Homo sapiens: one gene and its partner. The protein of the gene in region 2 interacts with the protein of the main gene of each other region in a pairwise test. Each region holds a gene or a part of one and is shown on either strand. Other genes may lie near its edges.

The links.
Region 1: the proteins of ACAT2 (region 2) and WWOX interact in binary tests that used the Homo sapiens proteins (3 or more experiments, as listed by UniProt).

The regions. Positions count from the first base shown.
Region 1 is NC_000016.10:78,435,154-78,438,653, forward strand, and holds part of WWOX (WW domain-containing oxidoreductase), read left to right. Parts: intron 1-3,500. UniProt on the Homo sapiens protein: Putative oxidoreductase. Acts as a tumor suppressor and plays a role in apoptosis. Required for normal bone development. May function synergistically with p53/TP53 to control genotoxic stress-induced cell death.
Region 2 is NC_000006.12:159,772,045-159,775,544, forward strand, and holds part of ACAT2 (acetyl-CoA acetyltransferase, cytosolic), read left to right. Parts: intron 1-3,125; coding exon 3,126-3,269; intron 3,270-3,500. UniProt on the Homo sapiens protein: Involved in the biosynthetic pathway of cholesterol.

The DNA.
Region 1 (3,500 bases), on a different chromosome or scaffold from region 2:
AACCAGAGTATGGGGTTAGAAATGGAGGCAGAGGGACTACCATGTCGGGGAGGATGCACAATGAATTGGACGAAGGTTGCAACTCAGTGAGCACCGTACCTGTAGTGTGTCTTAGTAATAGCAGATGCCCAACCTCCATGCCTAACTCCTTTGCCTACCCCACCAGTGTGCAGCAGCCTCTGCCGCACCCTACTGCAGTCTCTCCTATTTCCCTGGCAGGAGAGCTCAGAGACTACTTGTGAACAGGCCTCAATGCCTATAGCAAGGCAAGGCTTGGGAGAAACAAATGTCCTCTGGGAGCAGCCTTGGGTAAAAGATTAACTGCGCACTGAGCTTTAGATCCCTGAGTGAGAAAGCTGTGGGAAAATGAGTGTGTAGCTCATGAGAGGGTTTGGAGAAAAGTGGTGACATCGCAAAAATCCCAGGTTTTGTTGAAGTTGTCTGTGGAGGGGCACTCATAGAAAGGGCACTGGACGTGAGCATTTCCCTTGTAGTTGAGATGGGATTTGACATGACTTCCTGGTGGTGGCAAGACAAGAAAGTGGCAACCTGGGACAGTGGACCTCACAGCTCTCCTGCTAATGGTGCTGATGGCTAAGCTCAGCTCTTACCCTTGACCACTGGAACAACTTAGACATGTCACCAGCTTTCTGAGCCTGTCTCATTACGATGAAAATTGTGATACAGGTTAGTGTAAGGACCGACAATAATGCATATAACATCAATAATGATGGATATAGAATTTCTGCAGTTATTATAATCTGGCTCTCCAGTATGGTAGTCGTGGGCCACATGTGGCTATTGAGTTCTAAAAATGTGGCTAATAGAACTGAGGAAGTGAATTTTCAATTTGATTCCATGTTTGTTAATTCGAACTGAAAAACACCACGTGTGCCAAGTGGCTGCCATACTGGAGAGCGTGGTCAAATGACATGCCTAGCTCAGTGCCTTTCGCATGGGAGGTATGCAGTACTTCCTGCCACGATGGCTGTTACTCTTGTCGTTGTGAGCAGTGCCTTGGTCCCGATGATGATTCTCCAAAATGTAATCTCTGCTGACAGAACAAGAGTCTGCAAATTGGGAGTCTGGAAAGGGAAGAGAAGGGCTTTGTCCCTGGCCCCAAAGACTCAGGGAGAGGTTTACTGGCCAGGTAGAAAGGGCGTCCAGGTGAAGGGACCCTGGTTCAGTGATCTCCAACCTGCACGTCTCATTTGTGAGGAAGCCGTAGGGTGTGGACTTTTCTTGTTTCTGACCTTGAGTGATTAGAAAATAGCAGCTTTTATATGTCACAAATGGACTTTAGATAAGCATGAAGATGACGAAGACTGTGGAATATGTAGCTAAGAGTCTTACTAAAATCCTCTCTAGTGTATTTATATATTTAAGCGTTTGGTAGTACTTTTTTAGCCATCAGCGTTCTCTATATTAGGTTGATACAGAAGTTATTGAGGTTTTTGCCATTGAAAGTAATACGTCACTTCATGCAGAGGTGGAATTGGCGCTCTGAGCTTGCTTGTCAAATTCACAGGCATTCACTTTTCTTTCATAAACATTTAGGACTCTGTATTTAGGAGAGGAATCACTGTGAATGTAGACCTCGGGTTGGTCATTTTCCTAGTAAGATAGACCAGACTGACTGGAAAAGTCACCCTCTTGGGCTATCCTGCGTATGTGGCTCGGCATTGCTTCCGTCAGGATAATGCATCAGTTTCTTGGACAAAGGGTGCATTTCTGCTATTTGAATGCAGACATATTTTTGGATATAAGCCACGCAGTTGCATCCCATTTCTTCCGTAGGTAAAGGCTGGGTTTCTAATTGTGATTGAGAAGCTTAGCATAGATGCAATGTCCCTATCACCAGATGGCTAGTGTGCTCTGCCTTGTCTGCCTTTTACCTTAGAGAGGGTGCTTCCTTCTGACACGGGTATTGCTGGAGTACACATTCTGTTGCATGAGGTCAGGGGAGCAAGAAATACAACCCAGACTTGCGCTCGGAAGCCCTGCCTTCATTTCTTCTCTGTAGCTGGCTCCCTTAAGTATTAAACAGCAGTATTCTAATATCAACGTCCCTTTTTTATTTGCTGTGACTTGCTGTGACTACGGTGATTTTAGTTACAGTAATTAGGTCACTCTTCATGGAGTCGGGCTATTTTAAGTGCCTCTTTAAGGAATATTGTTGCAGATCAGTAATTTTACAATTGGATGTTCTTGTGCAACTTTATTAAATGTGATCTGTCTTTTAAATGTTGCCCTTTTACAGTTACACATTTCTAATTGTTGCTGTAAATGCATTATCACTTTGAAATTAATTAATTTTTCCATTTTGGCTGCCTGCAATATAATAATCACTAATGAGAAACTCACAGGAATCAATTCTCAGCACAGCGGCCCCTACTGGTAAAGCCATGTCTCTGCCTCCCTCTTCTTCTTCAGATCCAGAGAACTGGACAAGTGTATTGGGGCGTCCTGGGAGGGAAGTGTTTGTTTCTTCCTCCCTTCAATTTATGGTGAAATAAAAATCACAGATAAACTTGGAAAGTGAGTTATTTTTAAGTGTCGTTCTAAAAAAGATGCAATATACTTCAAATAGCTGCTTCTAAAATATGTTAAAGGAAACTAACATTTGCTGAGTACTTTCTAATAATGAAGTCACATCATACGTGCATTACATGTTTATTTTCTTGACTCTAGAGCATTCTTTTATGCAGTTAAATTACTCTAAAATGTTTTGCACCTGCACGCATTAATGTGTATTGTTTGGTAAGAACTTTCGAGTTGGTGAAAAAATGTATTGTATTTTAGTATCTATATTTATATATACATATTAGTCTATGGGTTTTAATTCACAAAACCAGGTGTTGTATCTGGTGCACATAAGGGATTTTCAAGGCTAATCTTGGGTTTTTGCAGTTGTAACCATGTGTGATGACTTTAGAATCCTACCACACTTCCAAATAGAGATGCAGATTGACCATTTTCCCAGATACCACGATGCTTTATGTATCAGCATATATTTTCATTAATTTCTCATAATTTCTGTTAGAATTAATAATTCCAAGTTCTACAATCTTAGAATTATTATCTTTATTTTGTAATTGAAAAGCACAGAAACCTCATGCAGCGTGTTCAAGAAAATGATATACCAGCCTTGTAAACTTTCACTTGCTAATTGCAGCTGCATTTGCTTTGTCCAATGCACGGTAATGCCCCTGGCATCCATATCTAGTTATGCAGTTATGCTTCCTTTTTAAAATGTTTGACAGCACCTTCACTGAAATGAATGCTGCCACCACCGCCAACCCCACCTTTTTTTTTTCCACATAAGCTTTCATTTCTGGTAAATACATCCTTGCCAGAGTTCCCAGGTCCAAGCCGGTCCTTTGTGGACCAGTATGCAGATTTGAAGTTGAGCACTGTCACTTGCCTCTTAGGAGTGTTTTGTGCAACCACATATTTGTGTTGGCAGATAACAGTAGAAAGAATATCATGTGTTAGGGTAG
Region 2 (3,500 bases):
GAAACCCCATCTCTACTAAAACTACAAAAAATTAGCCAGGTGTTGCAGCAGGTGCCTGTAGTCCCAGCTACTCTGGAGGCCAAGGGAGGAGACTTGCTTGAACCTAAGAGGCGGAGGTTGCAGTAAGCTGAGATATTGCACCATTGCACTCCAGCCTGGGCAACAAGAATGAAACTCCATCTCTAAATAAATAAATAAATAGTGTAAATAAATACTGTATAAAATGCAAAGCACTCAGAATAGCCAAAACAATTTTGAAGTCAGAAAATAGCACTTACATGCTCTGATTTTAACATTACCTATAAAGCTGTTGTAAACAAGACAATGTGGTTTTGGCATAAGGACAGAGAAAGAGAACAGAGTTCAGAAATAGACCCAGACTTATGCTTGTTTTCAACAAAGGCATCAATGGAATGAAATGGAGAAATTAAAGTCTTTTCAACAAATGGTGCTGGAATAACAGATTACTCACATGGGAAAGATGAACCTAGATCCCTACCTCACACCCTATATAAAAGCTAATTTGAGATAAATCGTGGATTTAAAAATAAAAGCAAAAAATGTAAAGCTTCTAGAAGTATATATAAGAGAATAGCTTTTACAGGGTGCAGTGGCAGGTGCCTATAGTCCCAGCTACTAGGGAGGCTGTGGTGGGAGGATCACTTGAGGCCAGCAGTTTGAGGTTGTATAGTATACTATGGTTGATTTTGCCTGTTAGTAGCTGCTGCACTCCAGCCTGGTCAACATAGTGAGACATCATCCAACAAAAAAAAAAAAAAAGAAAGAAAAACAGCTTGATAAGTAAAGACAAGACATAGAAAGCAAAGCAATAACTTTTTTGTGTGTGTGTGTGGAGACGGGTCTCACTCTGGCACCCAGATTGGAGTGCAGTGGCTCAATCTTGGCTCACTGCAACCCCCACCTCAGCCTCCTGAGTAGCTGGGACCACAGGTACTCACCACCATGCCTGGCTAATTTTTTGTATTTTTTGTAGAAATGGGGTTTCACCATGTTGCCCAGGCTGGCCTCAAACTCCTGAGCTCAAGGGATCCTCCCACCTCAGCCTCCCAAAGTGCTGGGATTACAGGTGTGACCCACCAAACCTGGCCAATTCTCACATTTGTAGAAGAGAGTTACAAATACGGAAAGGGAGAAGAATGTAGCTTGTGGTGTTAGGTTGCATTTTGGAGAACTCAAAATGCAGTATGAACTCAAGGTGTTACCATGAGTGTGTGTGTATATGTAAAATTATAAATAATACATATGGAAGTTTCTACTGAACAGACCTAGAAACAATGACAAACCAGTAACAACAAGCAGTCCTGACACCCAGATCTTCTAAATACATTTATCCACTAAAAGGAACTAAGGTTGTTTGGAGAAATGGCCCTTTCCAAGGCTAGGGAAAAAATGCTAAAAAATTAAGGACATGCTCAGGGACATGTTGAAAGCACACAGGAGGCAGCCTACGGGGCTTCCACTTTCCTGTAGTGGAATTTTGAACAATTTGAGCATCAGAGTCAGTAATGATAGTAATGGGTTGTAACTGCCCAAATTTTGAACAATTTCAGCGTGCAAATAAGTTATGATAGTAATGGGTTGTAACTGCCTAAATTTTGAACAATTTCAGCGTGCAAATAAGTAATGATAGTAATGGGTTATAACTGCCCAAGTATTGAAAAATTTCAGCATCAAAGTAAGTAATGAGAGTAATGAGTTATAACTTATTCAATAAAATGAAAATGTATGAGTCCATCCTGATATAAATAACTGAATAAATGGGAGAAAAGGAAAAGGTTTTCTTTGTGGTAAAATGCCAATTAATATCTTACCAATAGAAGGAATGTTGGAGTTAGAAAGTCATGAATGAATGCTAAAACTAGTGGGTGAAAATATGATGGGGAAGAAGATATTTGGATAATCCAAAAAGAACCTCTGATAAATTATTGATTACTTATAAATGAAAAAATGGTACCTTTAAAAGCTAGAAACCTGGTGAATACCAAACCATTTTAACCAAGTGATCAAAGATAACATCACCTGGGATAAACTGATTGTCATTTGTGTCCTAATAAGACTCACTGAGAAAAATCATACTATCATTCAGTGGTATACCTGCCTTTTGGCAGAATCTTAATCTAATTCTGAGGAAACATCAGACAAATCAAAATTGATGACCCTTAACAAAAGAACTCGCCCATGTTCTTCAAAAATATCAAGCTTAAGAAGCATAGTCTGAAGAACTGTTACAGACAAAAGCAAACTAGAGAGATTGATAGTTGTACAATGCATGCTTCTTTATTGGCTCAAATAAAGGAGCTAGAAGGACATTACTGAAATATAGGTGAAATTTGAATGTGGACCAAGGATTAGATAATAGTGTTTGATTCATGTTAAATTTCCTGATTTTTGTTTTGTTTTGTGAGACAGGGTCACCCAGGCTGGAGTGCAGAGGCACAATCATGGCTCACTGCAGCCTTGAACTCCTAGGCTCAAGTGATCCTTCTGCCTCAGCCTCCCAAGCAGCTAGGACTACTAGCTACATGGCACACACACCATGCCCGGCTAAATTTATTTTTAATGGAGACAGGGTCTCGCTGTGCCCAGGCTGGTCTCAAACTCCTGGGCTCAAGTGATCCTCCCACCTCGGCCTCCCAAAATGCTGGGATTACAGGTGTGAGCCGCCACACTTGGCCCAATTTCTTGAGTTTTATAACTGTGCTTATGTAAGAAAGTGGCCTTGTTTTGGGGAAGTATACACTGAAATTAAAATTTAAGAGTAAGAAGGCATTGTATCTCCAACTTTCTCTCAGATGGTTCAGAAAGAAAATATTAAAGCAAATGGAGGGAAAATATAAATGGTGACTCTGGGTGAAGGAAATTTCTGTAAGTTTACAATTATATAGAAAGGGAAGGAGAGAAGTATGACTCCTGAGAGTCACTGCAACATTTCCAAACCAACTGCCAGTGGCAGGCAGGGCCACCCCACACAGAGCATTGCACAGGCCACCATGAGCCTGCTAGCATATGTGGTCAGTCAGTGCTTGGTCAAATGTGGACGACTTGAGCTATCAAATGCCAGTTCATGAAAATGTTAGTTTTTTGCTGTTTTTCTCCTTTCCCAGCTGAAAATGTAGCCAAAAAATGGCAAGTGAGTAGAGAAGATCAGGACAAGGTTGCAGTTCTGTCCCAGAACAGGACAGAGAATGCACAGAAAGCTGGCCATTTTGACAAAGAGATTGTACCAGTTTTGGTGTCAACTAGAAAAGGTGAGTATATCATAGTGGTTTAAACATCAACCTATTTATAGGTAAGAGTAACATCTAAAAGAGTAATACATAGGAATCTTTAGAAATTATATCTTAGTTATGTTTTTCAGGTTGCAAATATATGTCCTGGATACATGAATGTGGGGAGGGGGTATGCTGGGTTTACAGGACACGGTAACATGGGACCTATGTCAGCACTCAAGCACTCTTGGTTCCAGAGCGTCCATGACC